Regions from separate parts of the Homo sapiens genome. Here all the other regions are linked to region 5. The links come from fine-mapping of genetic effects on gene expression. A gene starts in region 5. Each other region holds a variant in brackets. All regions are shown on one strand. Distances are from middle to middle.

Evidence for each region. PIP is the estimated chance that this variant, and not a neighbour inherited with it, causes the effect.
Region 1: its variant is the best candidate, but not a certain one, in a credible set for the expression of SUSD6 in whole blood (INTERVAL, PIP 0.70).
Region 2: its variant is the best candidate, but not a certain one, in a credible set for the expression of SUSD6 in whole blood (TOPMed, PIP 0.66).
Region 3: its variant is the best candidate, but not a certain one, in a credible set for the expression of SUSD6 in whole blood (TOPMed, PIP 0.58).
Region 4: its variant is the best candidate, but not a certain one, in a credible set for the expression of SUSD6 in whole blood (TOPMed, PIP 0.59).

The regions. Positions count from the first base shown.
Region 1 is chr14:69,714,492-69,719,580 of GRCh38, reverse strand. SUSD6 (sushi domain containing 6) reads right to left here. Exons shown (of 6, transcript NM_014734.4): 6 at 4,437-5,089. Among named protein-coding and RNA genes, the nearest start is that of SRSF5, 50 kb to the left of the region's middle. The variant C/T (reference allele first, on the strand shown) is at 2,930.
Region 2 is chr14:69,687,669-69,692,771 of GRCh38, reverse strand. All of the region lies in intron 2 of SUSD6 (sushi domain containing 6), which reads right to left. Among named protein-coding and RNA genes, the nearest start is that of SRSF5, 77 kb to the left of the region's middle. RefSeq lists a silencer at 4,166-4,460. The variant C/T (reference allele first, on the strand shown) is at 1,941.
Region 3 is chr14:69,636,036-69,641,138 of GRCh38, reverse strand. The region is part of intron 1 of SUSD6 (sushi domain containing 6); the gene reads right to left. Among named protein-coding and RNA genes, the nearest start is that of SUSD6, 27 kb to the right of the region's middle. RefSeq lists enhancers at 2,869-3,381, 3,417-3,466. The variant G/A (reference allele first, on the strand shown) is at 2,840.
Region 4 is chr14:69,386,595-69,391,697 of GRCh38, reverse strand. It overlaps ERH (ERH mRNA splicing and mitosis factor), which reads left to right. Exons shown (of 4, transcript NM_004450.3): 3 at 4,615-4,735. Among named protein-coding and RNA genes, the nearest start is that of ERH, 9.2 kb to the left of the region's middle. The variant G/A (reference allele first, on the strand shown) is at 2,841.
Region 5 is chr14:69,609,144-69,614,246 of GRCh38, reverse strand. It overlaps SUSD6 (sushi domain containing 6), which reads right to left and starts at 2,651. Exons shown (of 6, transcript NM_014734.4): 1 at 2,419-2,651. RefSeq lists a silencer at 2,133-2,902.

The DNA of each region.
Region 1 (5,089 bases), 110 kb before region 5:
CCAAGCCCGGTAATGCTCCTTCATCACCAGGCAGCTTGGAGGATGAACCTAGGCTCAACTTGGGAATGTGTCATGTCTCACCCCAGGTTCACAGCTGATGAAATTCCCTTTTCAGTAACAGAAAGAGAAAAGCCTGGCAAGTGCCCCCAGCTCTAGTCCCAAGGAGAAGTGGGAAGACCTGAGAATACAGAGCATTCTCCTCACCTTTCAGAAGCAAGGCCCAGGGAGGAGACAGGGGCTGCCTGGGTCTCCTGGCCTTGCCTGATCTTTCCAGGGACCCAGAACCCATCCTGACTGCTGAGACTGCTGAGCATCTGGGACTGCATTTTGCTAAATGGCTTGGTGTCCTGGTTTTGGACATTGCTGAGAGGGATTCTTGGGCAGGATAGTAGGTGTGAAGGGGTCAGGTGATCAAGAACCCAGGGAGAAAAGCTGGGGAGTAGAAGAGGTGAGCAAGTGAGCAGCGTGAGGTGAAGAGGCCAGGAGTGGCACACCTGAATTCAAACCGCAACTCAGCTGAGGATGCATGACCTATGTGGTCTTGGACTGTACTTGAATCTCTCTGAGCCTTACTGTCCTCACCTGTAAAAAGGGTAATGACATCTGCCTTGCAAGACTGGCTGAGTTGATTGATTAAAATAACACCTCTCTCTCTCTGTCTCTTTTTTGTTTCTTTGTTTTGGAGACAGGGTCTCACTCTGTTGCCCAGGCTGGAGTGCAGTGAAGCAATCATAGCTCACTGCAGCCTCAACCTCCTGGGCTCAAGCAGTCCTCCCACCTCAGCCTCCTGAGTACCTGGGACTACAGGTGCAAACCACCTCACCCGGCTAATTTTTAAAATTTTTTGAAGAGATAGGATCTTGCTCTGTTGCCCAGGCTGGTCTCAAACTCTTGGCCTCAAGTGATCCCTCCCACCTCGACCTCCCAAAGTGCTGGGATTGCAGCCATGAGCCATTTCTCCTGGCCTAAAATAGTATCTTTAAAGCACCTTACCCAGTCCCGGGAACCTATTAGGTGCTCAGCAAACATCACGGAAGGTTGGGGAAAGGGAAGCTGTGTGGTAAATGTCCTGTGGAGCCAACACTCCCCCACGTGCTCCCCACCAGACCAAAGTCCCTATTGGGGCACAACTGCATTTGCTGCTGTCGCCTCTCATCTTGAAGACAGACCGTGAGACCCACTCTGTATGCAGCTTGGCTTCTGGGATCACTTGAGTGGGCAAGGTTGGGACAGTGCCATTTCCCCCACCCTGGGCCGCTGCTGGGAAGGCAGACCAGCCAGCTTCTACCATGGACTGGGCCACTCAGAATCTCCCTGTGATCCCTTCTTCTCATTCCAAGGCCTGTGGAGAAAAGAAGGAGTCTCCTTTCAGCCGGGCCTTCCCACTACCAGAGTGGGGGATTCAGCAGCAGTGCCTCTGGCCAGCCAGAGTCTCACTACCCTTGCCTCTGAGCTCCCTCCTCTCCTGCCACTTCCAATGCAGGGGAAAGAGGCCGCCTGTCACCCAGTGAGGTGGAAGCAGGTGATAAACAAGGCAGCTCTCTTCCTTCCCTAGTCTCCTCTCCATAGTCTAGGCTGCAGATGGGCCACAGCCTCAGGTTGAGATCAAGACAGGAAGGAAAATAAAGTGCTGCCCCAGGTCTTGAACTCTGGGAAGTATTCCCTATTCATACTGGGGCTCTTTTCCTTGCCTCCTGCCCAGCCCTGATCTGAAGGAACTAGGAAAGGAGTGAAGAGCTTCTCAGAACTTCCCCCAGACACCTAGGCTGCCTCAGGAGGTGATATGGTTTGACTCTGTGTCCCCATCCAAATCTCACCTTGAATTGTAATAATCCCCACATATCAAGGGCGGGACCAGGTGGAGGTAATTGAATCATGGGGACAGTTTCCCCCATGCTGTTCTCATGATCGTGAATTCTCACAAGATGTGATGGTTTGTTTTTGTTTTTTGTTTGTTTGAGACTGAATCTCGCTCTATTGCCCAGGCTGGAGTGCAGTAGCGCAATCTCAGCTCACTGCAACCTCTGCCTCCCGGGTTCAAGCGATCCTTATGCCTCAGCCTCCCAAGTAGCTGGGATTACAGGCATAAGCCACCAGGCCTGGCTAATTTTTGTATTTTTAGTAGAGATGGGGTTTCACCATGTTGGCCAGGCTTGTCTCGAACTCCTGACCTCAGGTAATCCATCCCCCTCGGCCTCCCAAAGTGCTGGGATTACAGACATGAGCCACTGTGCCTGGCCGATGTGATGGTTTTATAAGGGTCTTCCCCCTTCGCTTGGCACTCATTCTCTCTCCTGCTACCCTGTGAAGAGGAGCCTTCCCTCATGATTGTGAGTTTCCTGAGGCTTCCCCAACCACGCAGAACCATGAGTTAATTAAACTTCTTTTCTTCATAAATTACCCAGTCTCATGTTATTTCTTCATAGCAGCATGAGAATGGACTAATACAGGAGTTTGTCCTCAGGTGTCGCTCTTCCTTCCAACCTCTCCAGGAGCAGCATTCAGGGCCAAGGGAGCCACGGTGACTCTAGCGCAGTGAGTCATAGGTGTTCAGGATGCAGAGGGAAGTTGTGTTGGAGAACAGGATGGGGCTGGGCTCCAAAGCCAAGCAGAAGAGAGTGGACTTGCTGAAGATGGTGGGACAGGGACACACACTGGACCTGGACTAGGGGCTTAGAATTTCAGCCCAGCTCTGCCACCAACTAGCCATGTGGTCTTGATCAAATCAGAGTACAGCCATGCACATCAGTGCCCTCGTCTGTAAAACTGGGCATTTGAAACAAATGACTACTGAGGGTTTGTGGTTTATTTTCTTTCCTGCTCTAAACAATAAAGCAAGACTCATGAAGAGTTTCTGAGAAAGAAAATGATGTCATTCAAGCCAGGTCTTGGTAGAATTAGCCTGGAAGTGGGGTGCTGGGTGTTGAAT[C/T]AGCTGCGCATTGTGGCTTAAGCCAGTGGGGTTTTCTGTTCTTGCAACATAAAGAAGCCTGCATGCTGTGGGCAGTGTTCTTTGAGGCAGATATTAAGACACTGGGCTGTGAGACAATCATGTTTGAGTCCCAATTTCCATCATTTCAGAGCTGTGTGACTTTATAATAAAGCTTCGCTACACTATTTTGAGCCTGTTTCTTCACCTGCAAAGTCAGGGTTAATCAGAATGCCCACCCCCTGGTGCAGCTGCCAGATCTGGAGTTACTGCAGGCCAAGAGCCTAGAAGGGCGCCTGGTACATACGGAAGCACTCAGTAGACGCTGGCTTGCATCAACATGAATCCTGGCATGCTGCCAGCTATCTTTTGCTTTTGGCTTCCCTGAATGCATTCCCACCATTTCTCCCTGTGTTCCTGCCCTCCTCACTGCTCCTGCCCACTGAACTGCCGGCAATGCCTACTGTTGCCATAGTTTCCCCAGATAAATAGAATGCTTCCCTTATTTTAACTTGGACCTCACTGCCTTCTTCCTGAAACCCTTGGTGTTTTGGGAGCCATCACCACAGTTCCTTCTCTCTTCCCGTCTGCTCCAAGACATCTGCCCTTTCCAGGAATATAATCCAAAGCCTTCCTTTTGTGAGCTCATTTCAAATGTGCTCCTTGCCACACTGAAGCTGTGGTGGCTTTCTGCCCGGTTTGAACCTCCCTTTGCTGTTGTCCCTCCCTTGCCCAAGCACCCGCACCCCACCATACTGAAGATTTGGTGGTCAAGACTCCTGTGTTTTGTTTTTTTTTTTTTGAGACAAGAGTCTTGCTCTGTTGCCCAGGCTGGAGTGCAGTGGTGCGATCTCGACTCACTGCAAGCTCCGCATCCTGGGTTCACGCCATTCTCCCGCCTCAGCCTCCTGAGTAGCTGGGACTACAGGCACCTGCCACCATGCCGGGGTTTTTTTTTTTTTTTTTCTGTATTTTTAGTAGAGACAGGGTTTCACCGTGTTAGCCAGGATGGTCTCCATCTCCTGACCTCGTGGTCCGCCTGTCTCGGCCTCCCAAAGTGTTGGGATTACAGGCGTGAGCCACCGCGCCTGGCCAAGACTTCTTTATTTATTTATTTTTTGAGACAGTCTCGCTCTGTCGCCCAGGCTGGAGTACAATGGTGCAATCTCAGCTGGCTGCAACCTCCGTCTTCTGGGTTCAAGCGATTCTCCGGCCTCAGCCTCCCAAGTAGATGGGATTACAAGCATGCACCACCGCGCCCAGCTAATTTTTGTATTTTTAGTAGAGATGGACTTTTGCTATGTTGGCCAGGCTGATCTCAAACTCCTAGTCTCAAGTGATCCAACTGCCTTGGCCTCCCAAAGTGCTCTCCATCCTGGCTCCTCCACCTCTTGCCAGGCACCCTCCCTACAGAGCTAGTGCCTCATCCTTCCATGACCTCCTGCCCACATATGCTCTTTCAATCTAAGGTTTCTGCAAAAACTTTCAGGAAGGATCACATCTCCCAGAATTGCCTTCATAAGAACTTTTTTTTAATTATTTAGAAATGCAGTTATATACATAGAACAATTAAAATTAAATTAAACTTTGTACAAATATTAAAATACTATCTTCACACCCACTGCAATGTACAGGATACCAAAAAATATATATATAAAATAAAATAAAGCAAACCCAAACTGATTGAGTGACATCCTGCACAGAGTCAATTATGAATGTGTTGTTTTAAACCATTATATGAGTACCATTCTGCAAAGGATTCCATAGTGGTGCGATAACCTGAAGAAGCCAGGGCAGGGTGTGGGGACTGCCACACAGCCCACGTACATCTCTCCTCCTTGCTTGGCAACTGAGTGCTTTGCCCCTGCATCCCCTTCTACTAGCTCTGCTGCTTGGCAGAGGGGCTCAACCTTGAGGTTTTCATTCACAATTCTACTAGGGTTTCAACTGGAAATTAAGAGCCATTTCCCAGCAAAGCTGGGCCTGCCACCTTTTCCTCTCTAGGGAACCAGCAACTACACCATTCAGACCAAACATATGCCAAGCAAAATATTCTCCAAGTCCCACCTTGGGGCACCAGTAAGGACTGTCCCTATTCCGAGAGCTGACAGACCCAGCAGGCCCAAGAGAAGCTCCCAGCCTCACTCGCTGTCCTTGGCATTA
Region 2 (5,103 bases), 79 kb before region 5:
GGGTTGGACTCTTGGGTACAAAGGCCAAAATTGTGGTTTCATTTCCAATCCTACCAGCTAATGGTAACTCCTAATGCCAAGTACAGTCCCAGGCATACACAGCAGGGCCTCAAGAAACACACAATCAAATTTAAAACAAATTTAATGATCTCTGTTGCCAAAAGGATACAAGTAAGGAAGAGAATTAACATTTATCACCAGGCACTGCACTGGTACTTTAAAAGTGTTATCCTATTAAATTCTTCCACCCTAGGAAGAAGGTGGTATAAAACTTGATTTGTTCAGAAAAAACTGAGGCTCTGAAAAATTTAGTAATGGACTGAGGTCACCTGGATTCTAAGTACTAGAGTCTGCATTCAAATTCTGGCTGGCCCTTCTACAAGGAAGCTTCTTGATTTTTTCTGATGCCACCAGAAAAAAATTTACCCCAAGACCTACAAAGTATAACATAGGGGTGGGATACATATGGACAAAAGCTGCTATAATTCCTGTTTGGAGAAGAATATGGCCTGGTGAGTTTAGTTGTGCCCAGAGGACTCAGTTCATATCTCAGGTGGGGCCACATTTTTCCAGAGAAGTGGAGGGAAAAGGCAGGACAGTTTCCTTCACTAATTTCTGTGTACTACACACAATGGAGCTATTTAAGGATCACAGACAGCAAAGTTGCAAGTGGGAGAAGATATGTAGGCATTTTCAGCTGAGAACACATGACTTCTTTTTTTTTTTTTTTTTTGAGACGGAGTCTCACTCTGTCACCCAAGCTGGAGTGCAGTGGCATGATCTCAGCTCACTGCAACCTCCGCCTCCCGGGTTCAAGCAATTCTCCTGCCTCAGCCTCCTGAGTAGCTGGGACTACAGGTGTGTGCCACCACACCGGGCTAATTTTTGTATTTTCGGTAGAGACAGGTTTCACCATGTTGGCTAGGCTGGTCTTGAACACCTGACCTCAGGTAATCCACCCGCCTCAGCCTCCCAAAGTACTGGGATTACAGGCGTGAGCCACCAAGCCTGGCTGAGAACACAAGACTTCTAAGACGGATATGTGAAAGGAAGGTTGTCACTAAATGCAGAATGGGGATGTGACCTGGAATTAGAGGGCTACCTTTCTGCCACTGCCCAGAACACACAGGGCCACTGGGTTATCACTGCCAAAGCCTGAAATAAACAGCCTCTGCCACATACTCCCAAACAGGGGGTCAGGTAGTGTGCTGATTCTCTTAGGCACTCAACAGGCCACTGCTACTCACAAAGGCCTAGACAACCGCAAAGAAAGAAAGGAAACACCAGTAAACTCTAGTTATGGATGGTAACAGAAATCCACTGAGGCAATGGCCCCAAATCAGCAAAACACCATAGGTCTTTGAGAAACACCAGCAGTTGAGGGGTGGAGGTCTGAATGGGTTTTTTGTCGCTGTTGTTTTGAGATAGAGTTTTGCTCTGTTGCCCAGGCTGGTGTCTAGTGGCACGATCTTGTCTTGGCTCACTGCAACCTCTGCCTTCTCCCAGGTTGAAGCAATTCTCATGCCTCAGCCTCTTGTGTAGCTGGGATTACAGGTGCACACCACCAAGTCCGGCTAATTTTTTGTATTTTTAGTAAGGACAGGGTTTCGCCATGTTGCCTGGGCTGGTCTTGAACTCCTGACCTCAGGTGATGCACCTGCTTCAACCTCCCAAAGTGCTAGGTAGGATTACAGATGTGAGCCACTGCACCCAGCCCTGAATGGTCTTTTCTGAAGAAAGAGATGTGACTGGGTCTAAGGCATACCATGAAGTGAGCCCTGTACATTCTGGGGGGTGGGGTCCCACCATGAGACAGGGACTACAAATACAAAAGAGACAATAAAAGGTGTGTGGTTTTTTGGTGCGGGGGGAGAAGGCTGGACGAAGCCACAAGTCTCATCTCTATTGCCTCTAAACCAACAAGCCTAAGGAACTCTGTA[C/T]TCACTGTGCACAGGCAGGTGGAGCGGAAGTTACCAAGTCCATTGACCTGGATATTCTTCCTCCTTCATCTTGTGCGGGATGAGATTCTCTGTTTTGAACAATCTTAAATCACAAAATTTTAAACCACCTTCTCCCAAATGACCACCACGGGAAAAGCAGTTTGCCATGCCTTCTTGGTTTCCTTTGCACTTCTCCAGAGGGGAACTTTCACCAACTGATTCTGGACAGTGAGGAGTCAAATCCCCCTAGGAGTTCTCTTCTTCACTACTTTGAACTTTTGCATCTTGCTCAGCATACCGTGCTCCTGGAAGATCCCTCTGCTCCTCTTACAAGCTTTCTCTTTGAATCCTTCCCACATGCTTTTCTCTGAGGAAGCCACATTTAAGCCTCTTTAAGGATCTTTAAAAACAACAGGAATGCATTCAAGCCTGCTGCAAAGTCCAAAGAAGGATGGATGCCTGGCCCTGAAGGTCTAGGACTGGCCTTTGATGTTAGCCTGTGTACATATTGGTCTGGCTCTAGTAAAACAAAACAACCTCAAAATAGTGAAACTTGGGCCTAAACTAGCTAACAGTCAGGAGTAGAGTCTCAACCATGCTTATTTATCAGGGTGAGGACCATGCCCCTGTCACCTGTCATGGCCTCTTTGGCTCTTTGGACCCTAGTCTCTCGCAAGCCACTTTTGACTGACCAGTCTGAGATGCCCAGTCAGAAGACAATGCCTCGGACAGCCTCACACACACTGCATGTTGGTAGATAACTATGTCTAAATGCCACATTGATGTACAGAAAATACCTTTAATCTCTTGTCCTCCAGACAGCAGGTTTAATAACTAATAACTTTCACTCAAAAGAGAGTAAAAAAACACGGGCATGGTGTCTTAGGCCTGTAATCCCAGCACTTTGGGAGACCAAGACAGGCGGATCACTTGAGGCCAGGAGATCGAGATCAGCCTGGCCAACATGGTAAAACCTTGTATCCACCAAAAATACAAAAATTAGCCAGGCAACGTGGCACACACCTGTAATTCCAGCTACTCGGGAGGGCTTGTCATGAGAATTGCTTGAAGCCAGGAGGTGGAGGCTTCAGTAAGTGGACATCATGCCACTGCACTCCAGCCTGGTGAGAGCGAGACTCCATCTCAAAAAATTAAACAAATTTTTAAAAGTATTTACAAGTGTTGATTCTTATTCTCTCCAGGTTTCACTTTCCTAACAAATTCCTTCATTAATTTAACAAATTTCTATTAAGCACTATGTGTTAGGCTGCTGCTAGAAATTCAAGGGCAAATAATACACATGGTGTGCCCTTGAGGAGACTTCAGTCTCTTTGGGAATACAGATAAGGAGCCCCAACAAGATTAAAATAATAGTAATATCTACTGCTTCTCTTCCAGAATCCATGTAAGGATTATATTTACCCATTCATTCTTTTTTTCTCTTCCCTCAGCTTAATTCTGCCATTCATTTTTTCAACAAGTTTTTACTAAGTACCAAAAGCACTGTGGCAGGTGAAGGTAGGCAGGTGGAAAGATAAAAAGATATTGGTCCTACACTCTAGGAGCTTTCTAATAAACGACTATAATAGATATATGTTAGAAATCAATATGGGCTACAGAAAGTTCTGAAGAAGGATTAATCCAATGGGGAAGAGACCAAAGAAGATTGTAGAAATGGTATCAGAGCTCCAACTTCACGGGAAGTAGGATCATGAGTACGGGATAAAGGATTATGACGGGGATAAAGGAGAGTGGGAAGAACATGGTGGGGGACATAAAGGCACAAACAAAGGCAGAGAATCAAGAAGAGGTGGTATGTGTACGGAGAAGTTAGCAAATGTTTCCAGGTTTAGCAGGAGATAACTGAACATTTAGAAAATCAGGCTGGTGCCAGAAGAGGGTAGGCCCTGAATGCAAGGCTAAAGAATGTGGAATCTTGGGTTCCTCTTCCATGAGATGAGATTTTAAGGACACTTCTAGGCCTATAATGCAAAGCCATGTTATTCATAATAAAATGAAAGCCTGCTAAATAGTACCAATCCCACTGAAGAAGCTGCCCATATAAGTCTGCCTACATCCCCTGGAAACTATTTTCCAATGGGCTGGATGTGCTGACAGGGTGGAGTGGGGAAAGGGGAAGAAAACGGAAAATCCATTGCGAGTTTTCCAGTGCAGATTCATCATGCTTCTCAAGTTTGCCTAGGTGAGAGGGGACAGGAAAGAACTAAAGGGGCTGGAGCACACAGAAAAGGAATACAAAGATATCTTGTGGTCAGTTTCTTTTCCAGGGTTCTCTCACATGGCAGCAGATGGCCTATCCCTGGAGGACTGGATCCAGAAAGCAGCTGCTCCCAGGTCCTGGTTCTAACAGCTGGGGTCACAGGTCCTCTATGCACAAGCTGAATGCCAGAAATCAATGGGTCCCATTGTGCCTGCATGCATGCATGAGCTCTCACGTCCAGGCTCATGCTCTATAACTGCCTAGAACAGAGGACTGGGAAAAATAACACTACACACTTTGAAGGACTACATTTGCAAACTAATGGAAAGATAAGAGTATTATACAATCCAATTTTATTCAAATTACCTTGACTTTGCTAGGTAGCTACTAAGATGCTAATTATTTGGGAGATAGAGGGTCAAGAGGGAGGTGGAAGAGGAACAGAAGTAGGGCAGATCATAATCAGAAGCTAATCAGTAAATACATCTAGTCTTCTTCTTTCTGCCCAATGCAGAGAGGAGTCTGGCTCTACCACAACAACCAAAAAGCAGGCTAGATGTTTCATGTATTAGAAAAGGGCATACAAATTCATAAAACAATGTGTGTGTACACAGAAGAGTATAACTGTATAATTACATAATTAGGCACATTATAAAGTATTTATACTGCTGAGACTAAAAGCCCCTACTCAAAGGCATTCCACCAAAGTTGAAAAGGGAAAAAAAAGAAAAAAAACAAAAAGAAAAAAAAGCATCTAATTGCAATCTTCCACAAAGCCAGACATCCCCAGCTGGTGCCACAGCTGAATTCTCTTAATTAACAGTTGTAACGGCAAGTACGAAAGACACTGTATGCTTATCAACTCCATGTCGTGGCCAGCCAGGCATGGGAGAAGCCCACAATACTGCTATAATTAGAGAGATTTTTCTCTATTATAATAGT
Region 3 (5,103 bases), 27 kb before region 5:
AGAGGAGCAAAGAATTACAGCAGATTCAGTGTCAGGAATAATGCAAGCCAGGAGGCAATGGAGGCTCCATTCCATCACTAATGCTTTTTGTGCACTGGAATAATATTTAGGAAGGCCTAGTGTTGAGTACAAGGGTGAGAACTCTGTGGCCTTAAAAGCATTTGCAAGTACAGTATCCTCTGAAACTGAAAAAGGATAAAAACCCTTTCTTAGGCTCACATCTAAAAAGGGCATTTACCCATGTTTTATATCTATGTCCTCAGAACGTTACAGACTGTAATTCCAGTCTTACAGCAATAATCACTTAACACACTGGAAAAGAGACAGGAAAAGCTATCAGAGGATTCATCCCATATCAGAATAAAATCAAGTTAGAAATAAAAAATAAGGAGTTAGTCTACCAATGTCAGGCTTGAGCTGGTCTCTCTCCCTTCAAGTGTAGATATTTGTTGGTTAATGTGTCTCACTGCCCTCTACAAATTCAGATAAAATTTATTTTTCACACCAGGTGCAGTGGCTCATGCCTGTAATCCCAGTGCTTTGGGAGGCTGAGGCAGAAGGATCACTCAAGGTGAGGAGTTTGAAACCACCTGGGCAACAGAGTGAGACCCTGTCTCTACAAAAAATAAAAAGAAAATCAGCCAGGTGTGGTGGTGTGCACCTGTAGTCCTGGCTACTCGGGAGACTGAGACAGGAGAAATCACTTGAGCCAAGGAGTTCGAGGTTACAGTAAGCTATGATTGTGCTACTGCACTCCAACCTGGGCAACAGAGTAAGATCTTGTCTCCAAATATATATATTATATATTATATGTGTGTGTGTATATATATATAAATTTTTTTCAGAATGGAAGAATTCTCTTAAGGAGTAAGTGAATGATAGTTACTCAGTTCTTAGCTATGCAATCCAGCCCAGGACAGCAAAATCTCTTCCTCATTAAGCACCCTGGGCTTTGACCCCATTCTTCAGAGTCCAGCCTGGGTCTCTACACATCCTGGAGGAGGCATTAAGGTGGGAGCTTTCCCGGGAGTCTATAGTTAATAGTTTCGTGGTTCCTCCCTCCCCCACTAAACTATAAACTAAACTGTAAATAAACTCCCAGGAAGGCTGGTACCCATGCTACCTTTATAATCTGAGACTAATGCACACTTCCCCCCGCAAAAAAAAAAAAAAAAAAAAAAACAGTGTAGGTGCCCCAGAGGGACTCTCTTCCCCAAAATACTAGTTGCCTGAACCAGTGGTTTTCTAACTGGGACCAATTTTGTGCCACCTCCCCCATTTGGCAATGTCTAGAGGCATATTTGGTTGTCACACCTTGGGGGTAAGGTGCTACTGGTATCTAATGGATAGAGCAAGGCATGTCAACTAAACATCCCACAACACACAGGACAACCCCATACAACAAAGAATCACTTGATCCAACATCAGTGATGCTGCAGATGAAAGCCCTGGCCTAAGTGAACAAAGGATGGGCTGCCAAGATGTCAGTTGATCCACCTTAGTTGTACATGTGGTGCAAAACTCCCCCAAACCACTGGAAAGCCTTTTTGTCCAACCAGCATGTCCCCAGACCAACTCCGTGATTCTCTCATCTCTAACTCAGGTTTACACTCCCTCAGAGAGGGGCTTGGGAATTAAGATATCTGGTTTTTCACCCCAGCTCTGCCCCTGGCTGTGATTCTGGACATGTAACAAAACTTTTCTGGGCCCATTTCCCCCTCAGTAAAATAAACTGGAAAAGAGTAAAAGTTCTTTCAGCTCTAAACTTCTGTTTTAAACGCTAGGTTTGGCCTTATTTCTTTTTTTTTTTTTTTTTTTTTTTTTTGAGACGGAGTCTCGCTGTGTTGCCCAGGCTGGATCCCGGCTCACTGCAAGCTCCGCCTCCCGGGTTCACGCCATTCTCCTGCCTCAGCCTCCCGAGTAGCTGGGACTACAGGTGCCCGCCACAACGCCTGGCTAATTTTTTGTATTTTTAGTAGAGACGGGGTTTCACCGTGTTAGCCAGGATCGAGACCTCAATCTCCTGACCTTGTGATCCACCCGCCTCAGCCTCCCAAAGTGCTGGGATTACAGGCGTGAGCCACTGCACCCGGCCTGGCCTTATCTACTTCTAATGATCCAAAGAGAAACGGGCAAGGACCCAATCTTGTTGTGAGTAAGCACACACACCCTCTGAAGGGCTGTGGTTCTTATACCTTGGAAACCAAACTGGACCAAAGGAGCTCAGAGAAGCCAGCAGCTTAGATAAGAGGGGCCCGCCTAAAAGGCTCTGTAGACACTGGCTGAGAAGCCAGCCCAGGACCTTGGGTTTAAATTACGCAAGTCCTGACTAGCCCCTGTCTTGCCTTCCCTAGGTCAGTCTTTTAAATCAACTATTAAAAGGTGGAATAGGAAGGACACAGCCTTACTATTCAAAGTATGGTCCATTAACAGCAGCACTGGCAGCACCTGGGAGCTTGTTAGAAATGAAGAATTTCAGCCTTCATCCCAGATCTACTGAATCAGAATCTGCATTTTAGTAAGGTTCCCCAGGTGATTCATATGCATGTTAAAGTTTGGGGAAGTCCTGGTTAGGGTATGCTGCCCTTCCAGTCCCTGCTTTGTCACCTCTTCATTTGGTAAAGGTGGCTTTTAAGACTGTCCACAACCCTCATCCTTCAATCCCACACACACACAATTACACACACACACACACACACACACACACACACACACTCCCCACCCCACCCCAGTTCAGAACCTTCAAACTCACACCAAGAGTGATGGGGGTAGATTACTTCCTTTTTGCGTCTTTCTTAGGTCCTTACAAGGCCAGAAAGAGGCAAGGTTTGAAGCACAA[G/A]CTAAATTACAGTCCTTCCAAGTGAGTGATTCAGCCCATCCCTGCCATTCAAAGGCTCTCCAGGAGGAGGGACAGAAAACGGGGTGGTAAACAGAAAGGTATAAACTCTGATGGAAAGAGATTCATCATTTGCATCTGAACAGAGAATAACAAGGGTCCAAAGTTTCATTTCTAACATTTTTTGTTTTTGTTTCTGTTTTTTGCTGCTGCTGTCTTATGTAACATAAAGATTCTTGGAGGCATAGGCAAAAGGGCAAAGCACACACACAGAGTTAACAAAAACACAGCAAGAGTTCTCCTAGCAGAGTGGTGGGGGGCAGCAGCTGGAACAAAACCAAGACCTGGATGAAGCATAGCATAACTGAGCACTGGAAAAGAAGATAGAACGTGGGGAGAAGGGGGGCTGGACTCTGTCATGCAGTCAGTGCACTGAAGTGACTATGCTGCTGCCCCACACTCCCTCCCCTGCACAGGTCACTCACCCCTCTCACCCCACCCGCTGTCACAAGCAGCAGATGGCCCAGCCCTGGGCAGCTGGTCAGAGGACAGCAATCTGCACGTGCTTGCCTGCCCCTCCTCCAGGGCTGGAGATGAGGAGGACCAGGTCAAAGTCAATGCCCATCCCTGGTGGAAGCAATTCTTGCAAGAGTGTCCTGGGGGTGGGGATGGCAACATCACCCAATGCTTTGCCACAATGAGACACACTTCAAAAACAACTCAGCATTATCCAAGGCTCTCCAGCACCCACACACAGCTCAGAAAGAGAGAGCCTTAGGCAGGGTAAGGGTGGAGAGGGTCAGAGAACAGTTCCCAGAGCGCACTGGGGTATGCTGACCCTGGTTAGGGGGGGACATTCATTCCTTCAACATTTGCTGTGTATATACCACATCCCAGGCGCTGCACCAGCAATGAGGGATACAGTGGTGATAGCAGACAGTCTCTGCCCTCAAGAAGCTCAGGTAAGGTCAGGAAGAACAAGGAAACAGACGGTAATATGGTGCGGTAAGTACTGAGCACAGGGTGTAATGCCAGCACCAAGGAGAGGCACCCACACAAGTATGGGGCAAGCGGCAGTCTAAGCTGATACCTGGCTTTAGAAGGTATTAGCCAGACAGAGCAGAAAGAGGTGGGTACAGGGAGTGGTGGGGCATTCCAAGGAGAAGAAACACATCAAAAAGCTGGGAGGCAAAAGAGACCTGGGAACTGCAATCTGTGCTGTCCCAGCCTTTGCTAACTTTGGTCACCTAGACCAGGGGCAGACTCCCGGGTTTGTCACGGAATCCTAACACATTACTGCCTTAAGGAACTTTGGGATCATCTTATAAAATCCAATCTACCCATTTTAGGAGAGGAAAACTGAGGCCTATCAAATGATCATGACTTCTTGAGAGAATGGCTGAACCAGAACCCCATTCTCCTAACTCTCACCAAACAAAGTTTCCTCATATATCTCCCAATCAGAATCTGACCACTGACTGAGCCCTTCTGGACACAGAGCCAGGCCCAGAACTGTTCTCCACTAGGCTAGGTCTGTTCTGAGAACCCAAGGAATAGCTCTCGTCCAGGCCTCTGCCAGACTGGAGGTCCAGCAGCACTAGCCTCCAGGAACTCCAACAAGGTAGGAACAGCTCATGAGAAAAAAAGACTGGCTACCTGCCTCTTCTGGAAAGGAGGCAGAAAGCACACATGGCAGTACCGGAGATAGGCTCTGTGAGTGTATATTGGCAACAATGGGTTCCCCCAGGAAATGAAGAGTTGTTCTAAGAGCTGAAGGAAATTATCAGCCAACACAGAAAGAGGAGGCGAGTCTGAGGTACTGCCAAACCAGGCAGGCTTAATTAAGGCTCTCCCACCCTCTTCCTCAGGAAGCCAGTCCCTACCCCTGGCTGGTCACACTACCTTAACTGTGAGAAGCACTCATTTCAGGGAAGCTGAAGGCCTTCCTCTTGGTCTCACCTCAGGAGGTAAGCCATCAGCCAGGGGTCTGAGCCACTGGAATTTCAGGGCCTAGCTGCCCTTACTGTCACCTCCGTCTATGCCTTCAACAGCAACAGTACTTGCTCTATTGTGGTTCTATAGCCTGCCGCCCACTCCAGGCAGCAAGAGTGTGTGCAGAGTGGAAGAAAGCACTCATTAGCTTTGAGTGTAACCCTCTACAGAATCTAAATAGAAGGCACAGTTATTCAACTGCTAAGGCACAATTCCTCCTCTTCTCATAGTAAAACAAAGATGCATGTCCACACCCACTAGCTGACTAAAAACTG
Region 4 (5,103 bases), 220 kb after region 5:
TAACCTAGCAATATGCTTTTTTTTTTTTTTTTTTTTTTTTTTTGGCGTGCGAGACAGAGTCTTACTCTGTCACCCAGGCTGGAATGCTGTGACGTAATCTCAGCTCACTGCAACCTCTGCCTCCCTGGTTCAAGCGATTCTCCTGCCTCAGCCACCCAAGTAGCTGGGATTACAGGCCTGCGCCACCATGCCTGGCTACCTTTTTTTGTATTTTTAGTAGAGACGGGTTTTACTGTGTAGGCCAGGCTGGTCTCAAACTCCTGACCTCAAGTGATCCGTCCACCTCAGCCTCCCAAAGTCTGGGGATCACAGGCATGAGCCCCCATGCCTGGCCAACCTAGCAGTATGCTTTTATGGTTCTTACTTTTTGTGTGTGTGGCTGCATAGCTGATTTCTTTTTATTGCTGAATAATATTCCCTTGAATGAATGTACCATGGTTTGGTTATCCATTCACTTATTGAAGAGCATCTTGGTTGCTTCTATTTTTTGGCAATTATGAATAAAGCTGCTATAAACATTTCTGTGTAGGCTTTTGTGTGGACCTAAGTTTTCAGCTCATTTGCGTAAATACGTAGGAGAGTGATTGCTAGATTATGTGGTACAAGTATGTTTAGCTTTGTCAGAAACTGCCAAACTGTCTTCAGACGTGGCAGGACCATTTTGCATTCCCACCAGCGTGAATGAGTTTCTGTTCCACATCCTTACCAGCATTTGGTGTTGTCACTGATTTAGATTTTAGCCATTCTAAGGTATCTTATTGTTTTAATTTGCAATTCCCTAATGACATACAATGTCATCTTTTCATGTGCTTATTTGCCATCTGCATCTTTATTGAGGTATCCAGATCTTCTGCCTATTTTTCATTGAGTGATTATGGTTAAGTTTTAGGAGTTCTTTGTATATTTTTAGACATTAGTCCTTTATCAGATAGATGTTTTATAAAGGTTTTCTCCCCGTTTGTGGTGTCTTCTCACTTTCTTAATAGTGTCTTTTGGAGCACAAAAGTTTTTTATTTTTATAAACTTTAACTTGCATATTTTTGTGTTTTTGGTGTCATATCTAAGAAACCATTGGTTTATCCAAGGTCACAAATATTAATGCCTTTATTTTTTTCTATGGGTCTTATAGTTTGGGCTCCTACTTTTAAGTCTCTGGTCTGTTGTAGAGATGTGTCCAACTTCATTCTTTCACATGTGACTATCCTGTTGTCCTAGCATCATTTGTTGAAAATACTGTTCTTTGTTGAATTGTTTTGGCATGCTTGTCAAAAAGCAGTTGACCATAAATGTGAGGGTTTGTTTCTGGACTCTCATTTCTGTTCCATTGATGTAGATACCTATCCTGATGCCAATACCATATTGTCTTGATTGGAGTAGTTTCATAGTAAGTTTTGAAATCAGGAAGTTTGAATCCTCCAGTGTTTTTCTTTTTCAAGATTATTTTGGCTGTCTTGGGTCTCCTGCATTTCTGTGTCAAACTTAGGATTAGCTTGTTGGTTTCTGCAAAAACAGCTTGGATTTTTATGGGAATTGCGTTGAATCCGTAGATCATCTGAGGGAGTATTGGCATCAGGTCTTCCAACTCATGAACATGGGATGTCTTTCCATTTATTAAGCATGGTGTGGTGGCTTTACTTTCTGCATGGCGTGGTGGCTCACACCTGTTATCCCAGGACTTTGGGAGGCCAAGGTGAGCGGATTGCTTGAGCCCAGGAGTTTGAGACTAGCCTGGGCAACATGATGAAACCCCTGCTCTCCAAAAAGTACAAAAATTAGCTGGGCATGGTGGCGCGTACCTGTAGTCACAGATCCTTGGGAGGATCACTTGAACTTAAGAGGTCAAGGCTGCAGTGAGCTGCAATTGGGCCACTGCACTCCAGCCTGGGCAACAGAATGAGACTGTGTCTCAAGGGAAAGAAAAGAGTCCTTCCATGACATTTTATAGTGTAGGGTGTACACGTTTTGTACTACTTTTGTTTCGTTTATTTCTAAGAATTTTATTCTTTTTTACGCTGTTATAAATGGAGTTTTCTTAATTTTATTTTCAGACTTGTTGTTAAGGCATAGAAATAAAATTTATTTTCATATACCAATCCTATATCCTGCAACCTTGCTGTACTCATTTCTTAGTTCTAATAGATTTTTATTGTTTCCTTAGGATTTTATATCTGTAAGATAATGTCATCTGCAAATAATGATGGCTGTACTTCTTCCTTTCCAATCTGAAGGCCTGTTATCTCTTTTTCTTGCCTAATTGCCCTGGCTAGAACTTCTAGTACAATGTTGAATACAAGTAGCGCAATAAATATTCTGGTATTCTTCCTAATCTTAACAGAAAAGCATCCCGTCTTTAACCATTAAGTATAATGGAGGCCGGGCATGGTGGCTTATGCCTGTAATCCCAGCACTTTGGGAGGCCGACGCGGGTGGATCACCTGAGGTCAAGAGTTCAAGACCAGCCTGGCCAAAATCGCAAAACCCCGTCTCTACTAAAAATACAAAAATTAGCCGGGTGTGGTGGCACACACCTGTAATCTCAGCTACTCGGGAGGCTGAGCCTGAGGCAAGAGAATCGCTTGAATCCGGGAGGCAGAGGTTGCAGTGAGCCGAGATTGTGCCAATGCACTCCAGCCTGGGCAACAAGAGCAAAAAATCCATCTCAAAAAAAAAAAGTATAACTGTGGGTCAATGCCTTTTTAACATATACGAATTTATTTTCCTAGTTTTTATTTTCTTTCCATTCATTAACTCATGGGTGATATTCTGTGATCACAATGTAGTATGCCAGTAGCAATAAAAAGCCCTAAGATAGTTGTTTAATAGTTCTGTGGTTGAATAGT[G/A]TTTTTATTAGGAAATTTATAAAGTTAATTTGGAGCTAATAAAAGGCTTATGTATACAGTATAGGACATGTTTTTTCTAGATAACTAGCATTTATGTCACTTAGCCATTCATCATAGTAGTCTTAAAATAGTTGACAGCGGGAATAGACTGAAAAGGTGTATTCTCCTTTTGTGGGAATAAGAAAGGAGAGTATCAGGCCGGGCACGATGGCTCAAGCCTGTAATCCCAGCCCTTTGGGAGGCTGAGGCACGCTGATCACCTGAGGTCAGGAGTTCAAGATCAGCCTGGCCAACATGGTAAAACCCCGTCTCTACTAAAAATACAAAAAGTTAGCTGGGTGTGGTGGCGGGTGCCTGTAATCCCAGCTACTTGGGGGGCTGAGGCAGGAGAATCGCTTGAACCCAGGAGGCGGAGGTTGCAGTGAGCCAAGATCTCATCATTGCATTCCAGCCTGGGCAACAAGAGCAAAACTCCATCTCAAAGAAAAAAAAAAGGAGAGTATTATTGAATAAAAACTAAATAGATAATATACTCTATAGCTAATTATAATTAGTAATGTGGGCTTGCTATTAATGATTTTGCTCATTATCTTTTTTATTATATTTAAGTACTTATATCCTTGTTCATGTGCTAATGCTTTATGTGTATTATTTCAAATAAACCTCACAATTCTATGAAGAGGCACTCTTAACTCTGTTTGACAGGTGTGGTTCAGGGAATGGCGTCGTTTGTCCTCGGTTTGACAGGGGCAGAGTTGGAACTAAAGTCTGTCTGAATCCATAGTCTAGGATTTTTTGTTTGTTTGTTTGTTTGAGACAGAGTCTTGCTCTGTCACCCGGGCTGGAGTGCAGTGGCCGATCTCGGCTCACTGCAATCTCCACCTCCCAGGTTCATGCCATTCTCCTGCTTCAGCCTCCCGAGTAGCTGGGGCTACAGGTGCCTGCCACCATGCCTGGCTAATTTTTTGTATTTTTTTAGTAGAGACAGGGTTTCACTGTGTTGGCCAGGATGGTCTCTATCTCCTGACCTCGTGATCCGCCCGCCTTGGCCTCCCAAAGTGCTGGGATTACAGGCGTGAGCCACTGTGCCCGGCCTAGTCTAGGATCTTAAATATACATTAGGATAATCTCTTTCCTTGTTGCCAATTTTTTTTTTTTTTTTGCTCTGTGGCTTTAGGAAGAATTACTGAAAAACCTGTTAAGACCCACAGTGTTATTTGTTTGAGCCATCAGATGGCAAGTCTTTAAAGCCCCTTAGCTCCAGTGGTTTGAAGTAATCATTTTATTATTAAGACACAAAATAGTTACATCAACATTGTGGTGAATTTCTCAGCTGCCCAGACTGGAGTGCAGTGATGCAATCACGGCTCACTGCAGCCAAGTGATTCTCCCACCTCAGCTTCCCAGGTAGCTGGGACCACAAGCACACGCCATCACGCCTGGCTAATTTTTTAATTTTTGTAGAGATGAGGTCTCCCTGTGTTGCCCAGGCAGGCTGGTCTTAAACTGTGGGGCTCAAGTGATGCTCCTGCCTCAGCCTCCCAAAGAGCTGGGATTACAGGCGTAAGCCACTACACCTGACCTGGTGAATTTATAAAATAAAAAAGTATTTGCTAGTGGCAATAATCAAAAGCCATCAATCTATCATCTTTTCCCCAGCCCAACTTTATTAAAGTAAATATGATATCAACATATAGCACAGCTCATAAGCACTGCTCATATCTAGAAGTGTATGCGATTGTAAGATTTTGCTTTTTTTCCTATCCTTTCTTAGGTGTTTGTAAAATGTATGAAGAACATCTGAAAAGAATGAATCCCAACAGTCCCTCTATCACATATGACATCAGTCAGTTGTTTGATTTCATCGATGATCTGGCAGACCTCAGCTGCCTGGTGTAAGTATTAGCCAACATGTCTTTTATCTTGTATTTTCTATTGCTTTTCTGTCTGTTTGAGGTGATTTATGGTATTGGGAGCTAATTATGTGCCTGATACTGATCTTTGCATTTGCATAGTGTATAGTAATTAATATTTCTCTTACAGAAATAAGAGATTGGCAACATAAAGCCAAAGGCACAGAAAAAAATAACTTTGCTAATTGATATAGTTAGTATCCAGAAAGGATCCTAATTCAGAAGTTCCATGTGCCTCTTCTTTGTTCCTTATACCTAATTTTTTTTTTCCTTTACAGTCTTTGTCTTAAAGCCATTGGTTTTGGATTAAAACTAAGATTATCTTTTTTTCATGACATTTCAAAAACTTA
Region 5 (5,103 bases):
AAAAATACAAAAATTAGCCAGGCGTGATGACACGCACCTGTAGTCCCAGCTGCTCAGGAGGCTGAGGCAGAGAATCGTTTGAACCTGGGAGGTGAAGGTTGCAGTGAGCCGAGATCGTGCCACTGCACTCCAGCCCGGGTGACAGAGCGAGACTCCATCTCAAAAAAAATAAAAAATAAAAAAGAACACAAGTTCAATCACCACACCTCAGAGACTGACCAGGAAAACAGACAAAGTGCTGAGGTCTCTTTATCTGCCAGCCTGTATCTGTAACACCTCATTCTACCCTTCTTTCTCTTCTATCTCACCAAATTCTGGGCTTTCAGAAGGCAGGCTTCAGCGAAAGAAGTCAAACTTGCCCATTTGACAGTGGGTTTGCTCTCAGGGTTTAAACACTGAGCACCCTGGCACCTGTCTCTATCTAGGTGTAAGTGAGGATTTGTTTCATATGCCATTTCTACTACAGTATCCAAAAAATTACTCTGCAGACAGGAAGTCCTATCTATCAGGACTCATACCAATACTGTCCTCTGTTTAACTCGCTGGGCAGAAGTTCCTTCAGCAGCAAATGGCCAGCAATGAAAGCTAACAACATAAACCAAAACAAATGGACTTAAAGGCTGTGAGTCCATGAGAGCTGGATTCTGACTTATTCAATGCAGTACCTGCAATACCTAGCACAGTGCCTGGCATACATTCGGTATCACATAACTACTTGGGAGTACTGAATGAAAGAATGAACAAATGAATCTTATGCAAACATACCGTAAGTGTGTACCCAGGAGAAAGAGTTTAGAATGCTCATGATCTGAGAAACAGCCTGAAGCAGCAGTGCTTTCAGAAGGTTTTAGAAAGACTCCAGGTTCAATTTTATCAAAAGGTAAACAAACCAGAAACTAGCAGTATAATCTAGTAGTTCAGACTGTGGGCTCCACCATGAGATACCTATGTGACATGGGCGAGTTATTTAACTTGTTTGGTTTGGGTCTCAACTAGAAGAATGGGGATAATAATATCTACATCAAAAGTCTGTTATTAAATGAGTTCAAAAAAGTAAAGCCCTTAGCACAAAGGTTGGTACTCAGTAAGTCCTCAAGAACCTTTCCATATTATTGCTGCTTAAATACCTTCTTTCCTGAGATGTAGACATACCTCCCCCAACTCCAGGAAAATTTTAATTTCTGGTTGAATATGCTTCTAGCTAAAAACACAAAACCCAGAGAACTCAGAAGTCAGTGCCAAGCACATGTCTCTACTAGCCTCCACTAGATGGTGACAGTTTGGGTGTGGAATTCCCAAAACAGAAAAGGTGTGTGTGCGTAACTCCTATGTATGTTTTTACACCAGAGGAACGAAAACAGCAAGAAATGAATTAACTACTGTGAAGGAAAGACATACTTCCCATCTCTGTAGATCAAAAAAGGGAGTAAATCCCTAGGCCTAATTGAACTGAGTAATCTTACTGCACCTCTGGAAGAGCACACAGGAGCCCAGTTAGCGAGAGCAACAAAGCCCAGCATGTCGCCTGCCACTGAAAGAAAATTCTGTGGGAACAACAGCTTTAGGCCTCCTTGCCCAGACGCCAACTTCCCTTTAACCAGCCCAAGACTTTATTTTGACGCCTCTTTGCTCCTGGGTCTTGCTGTCCCCATAACCACCTCCCCCTCCTGCTCCTAAATTCGTCCAGGGTAACTTTTCTCCACTTCAGCAGCTCCCCAGCCACGACTCCCATGAGGGAGAGTCAGATCCACACTCATAGCTGGGGTCTCAAAACCAAGCGAAAAAAGGAAAGTCTGTATGTACGTGCCTACTTTTTGAAAGAAAATAGCTGGTTTCGGGGAGTTTAGCCTGGTTAATAAGAGAAGTTTTTGAGATTAAAGAGCAGCCGAGGCGCGGGGGCTCCCGAATGCCGCGGTGCGCACAGGCGGGCTCTGAGATTTCCTCAGGAAATCCACCTTCTCTAAGCCAGCCCTGCCCCAGCGCAAGCCCCGCAGCTTTGCTGGGCTGAGGGCAGTAATGACAGTGGCACAGAGGGCCTCTGCCTACCTCCTCTGCACCCATCGGCACGGCGTCTGGCTCTTCCGGTGCTGCCCGGGCAGCGACGCGGGACGGCGCGCCCCGGACCGCGGGTCACCAAGTTCCCGGCCGCAAACCAGCCGCCGGTCCCCCCGGCCGCGCAGCCCCCACTGCTGGCCGGCTGGCCGCGCCACGCCAGCGCGGGGCTCCCAGCGGCGCGGCTCGCGGCCGGGTGACAGCGGGCCGGCGCAGAGAAGCGCGGGGAGCCGCCGAAGCCGGCCCGGGCTCCGGCCAGCGTCACTCCTGGGCGGTGCGCGCTGGTCCCGCGCCCCTGACAGCCGGCCGAGCGCGTCGATGGCACAATGCCGGCCCCGCCGCCCCCGGGCCGCGGTGACAACTCACCCGGGAGCCGGCGGAGACCTCCGGGATGGGGGCGCTCACAGCTTCCACGCCGCCGCTTGCGCGCGCCCGCAGTCTTCTCGGGTCTAGGCGAGGCCCCGCGTGCCCTTGTCTAGCTCGCTCTGGCCGGCGCTGTGGGCAGAGGAAGCGGGCGGGAGGGAGGGAGGAGGTGGGGCGGTCGCCGGCTTCGGAGAATAGAACGCGGCGGTAGCGACGGCTGCAGCGCCCGCGTCACTGACCCAGCTGTACCGCGCGGGCGGGGGAGGCCCCGCGGAGGGGAGGGGGCGGGGAAGGGGCGGGAAAGGGGCAGGGCCAGGCGCGCACGCAACGGCGCCGGCGTCGCGCCGCCGCGACCGCCCCGCCGGGAGGCCCTGCACGCACGCGCCGCCGGCCGGGCCAGGTACCCAAGGGAGAAGCGACGCGGTTGGGGAGGTGGGGGGTCCTTAAAGAGACAGTCCCTCTGCGCTGGAGTGGATGGGGCGGTGGCACCGACTCAGCTGGACTATGCGGCGTTTCCAGTGCGCTCTCCAGTTCGTTTACTATTATTATTATTTGCATGATTGAATTACTATTATTTGCAAAGAATTGTACTGCCCTGAGGTTTACAAGGCTTTTGGCGCATGTTGCCTTGTTAGCTCTTGAATTGCTCGTCTGACCTAGCTCGTCTGAAGCAGGTTATTATCTCCCTGTTAAGCAGTAATCCGAACTGTGGTTCCTAGCCTGCCAACATTAAAGCTGCCCGGGGGGTGGGTGGGGGTGAAAATGCAGATTCGGGGCCCCGAATGACCTCCAGCCATTGTGATTCAGTGGGGTCGGACTTGGGAATCTGTATTTTCACTAGCATTCTGAAGTGAGTGATCCTTCAGCATACTAAAAGCACACAAGGGATCTCAAGGTTGAGAAAACCGCAGTTCAGAGCCAGGACTGGCAGAGCCCGGGCTAGAAGCCTGCCACATTCCTAACTGTATTTCCCCTCTTGAGCCTTGCCTTCTGGGGCTATTTTCTAGCACATACTGAGTGAGCAGTTTGTGCACTGTATGGCTACATCGTTTATTGGTGATCTCTCATGCAGTGTGTCCTCGGTTTATGTGTTTACAGGGCCCGTGGCGCCTTGATGGGGAGGACTCTGGCTTTTTATCTTTGTACCCCAGGGCCTTGCACCGTGTCGGTCTCAGAGGTCCTCCATAAGTGTTAAGGAACTCCTACTTGTAAATCAGTGGTAGAGTCCACATCTGGACCTACAGACTTGTGTCTTTGCTGCAGCTTGGGTCAGGCAGGCCTCTTCTCCCAGATGCTCTTGGACAAAAGGATACACCTTCTCAGGGCCTCTCACCAGGCCTAGTTCTAGTAGGCTTTCGGGAAAAGCACTGTGAATTAACAGGGCATGTCCTTGTGAAGTAGCTTGAACCAAATAAACAGGATGCTCCTCCCCATGCACACAGACCCATCCCCAAAAGAACCCTTCCCTTCTGGGCCCCACAGCAACCTGTGGCTCGTTGCTATAATGCCTTTTTCATAAGTCTATCCTTGTTCTGCCTTCTTTCTTCCTTGCCTTCTTGGGTCCAGACTCATTAGAGAAGATGGGCACCCCTCCCTTCCTGCTCATTTGGGGCCACACTGCCCAGACCACTAGAAGATTGAAAAGCACAATTCAGAACTACCTGGGTCTGCCTCAGAGCACAACCAAATCAGTGTGGGCAGCAGGAACATGCCAGGCAGACCCAAGGCTCAGGGAGGGGACAAGGGGGAAGGAAGCAAGGGAAAGGGATGGAGGAAGAATTGGAGAAGATGAATGGAGGAAGGAGAAAAAGAAAGAAAGGAAAGGGAAGAAAGCAGGCATGGATGGTTCAGGTCAGATCAACTGCCAAAGTAACTGAGCCCCTGGCTGTGCACTGAAGTCAGTTTGGCCATTAAGAGGCTCAGTAACTTCATACAAGAACTGCCACCTTATAAAATCCCTTGTGAGACCCTATGCAGATCTGTCCATCACTACCCAAAAATCCTCAGTCGGGCGCGGTAGCTCACGCCTGTAATCCCAGCACTTTGGGAGGCTAAGGCAGGCAGATCACGAAGTCAGGAGTTTGAGACCAGCCTGGACAACATGGCGAAACCCCTTCTCTACTAAAAATACAAAAATTAGCCAGGCGTGGTGGCACATGCCTGTAATCCTAGCTATTCAGGAGCCTGAGGCAGGAGAATTGCTTGAACTCAGGAAGCAGAGGTTGCAGTGAGCCGAGATCGTGCCATTGCATTCCAGCCTGGGTGACAGAGTGAGACTGTCTCAAAAAAAAAAAATCCTCTCCCAGACCTTCAGGGTCCACAGAATGAACTCAAAGTCATCAGCAAGGACTGTAGTATCCTGTGCTGTCCACAGTCCGGCCCAAATGCTCTCCATCCCTCCACACACCCCACTCCAGCCTCCCCATACCACCTGCTGGTCTCTAACAAGCCATTCCTGTCACAAACCAGGTGCCCATGCTGTTTCCTCAATCTTGAAGGCCTTCTCTACTTACCCTTCAGAATCTTCCCAAGGCTGCTGCTTCTACTTTTCTGTGGCACTTTGGTTGAGCCCCAAAGTGCCACAGAAAAGTATTAAATTAAAATTTTTAAACATTTTAAATATTTAATTATTTATTTATTTATTTTGACGGAGTCTTGCTCTGTCGCCCAGGCTGGAGTGCAGTGGCA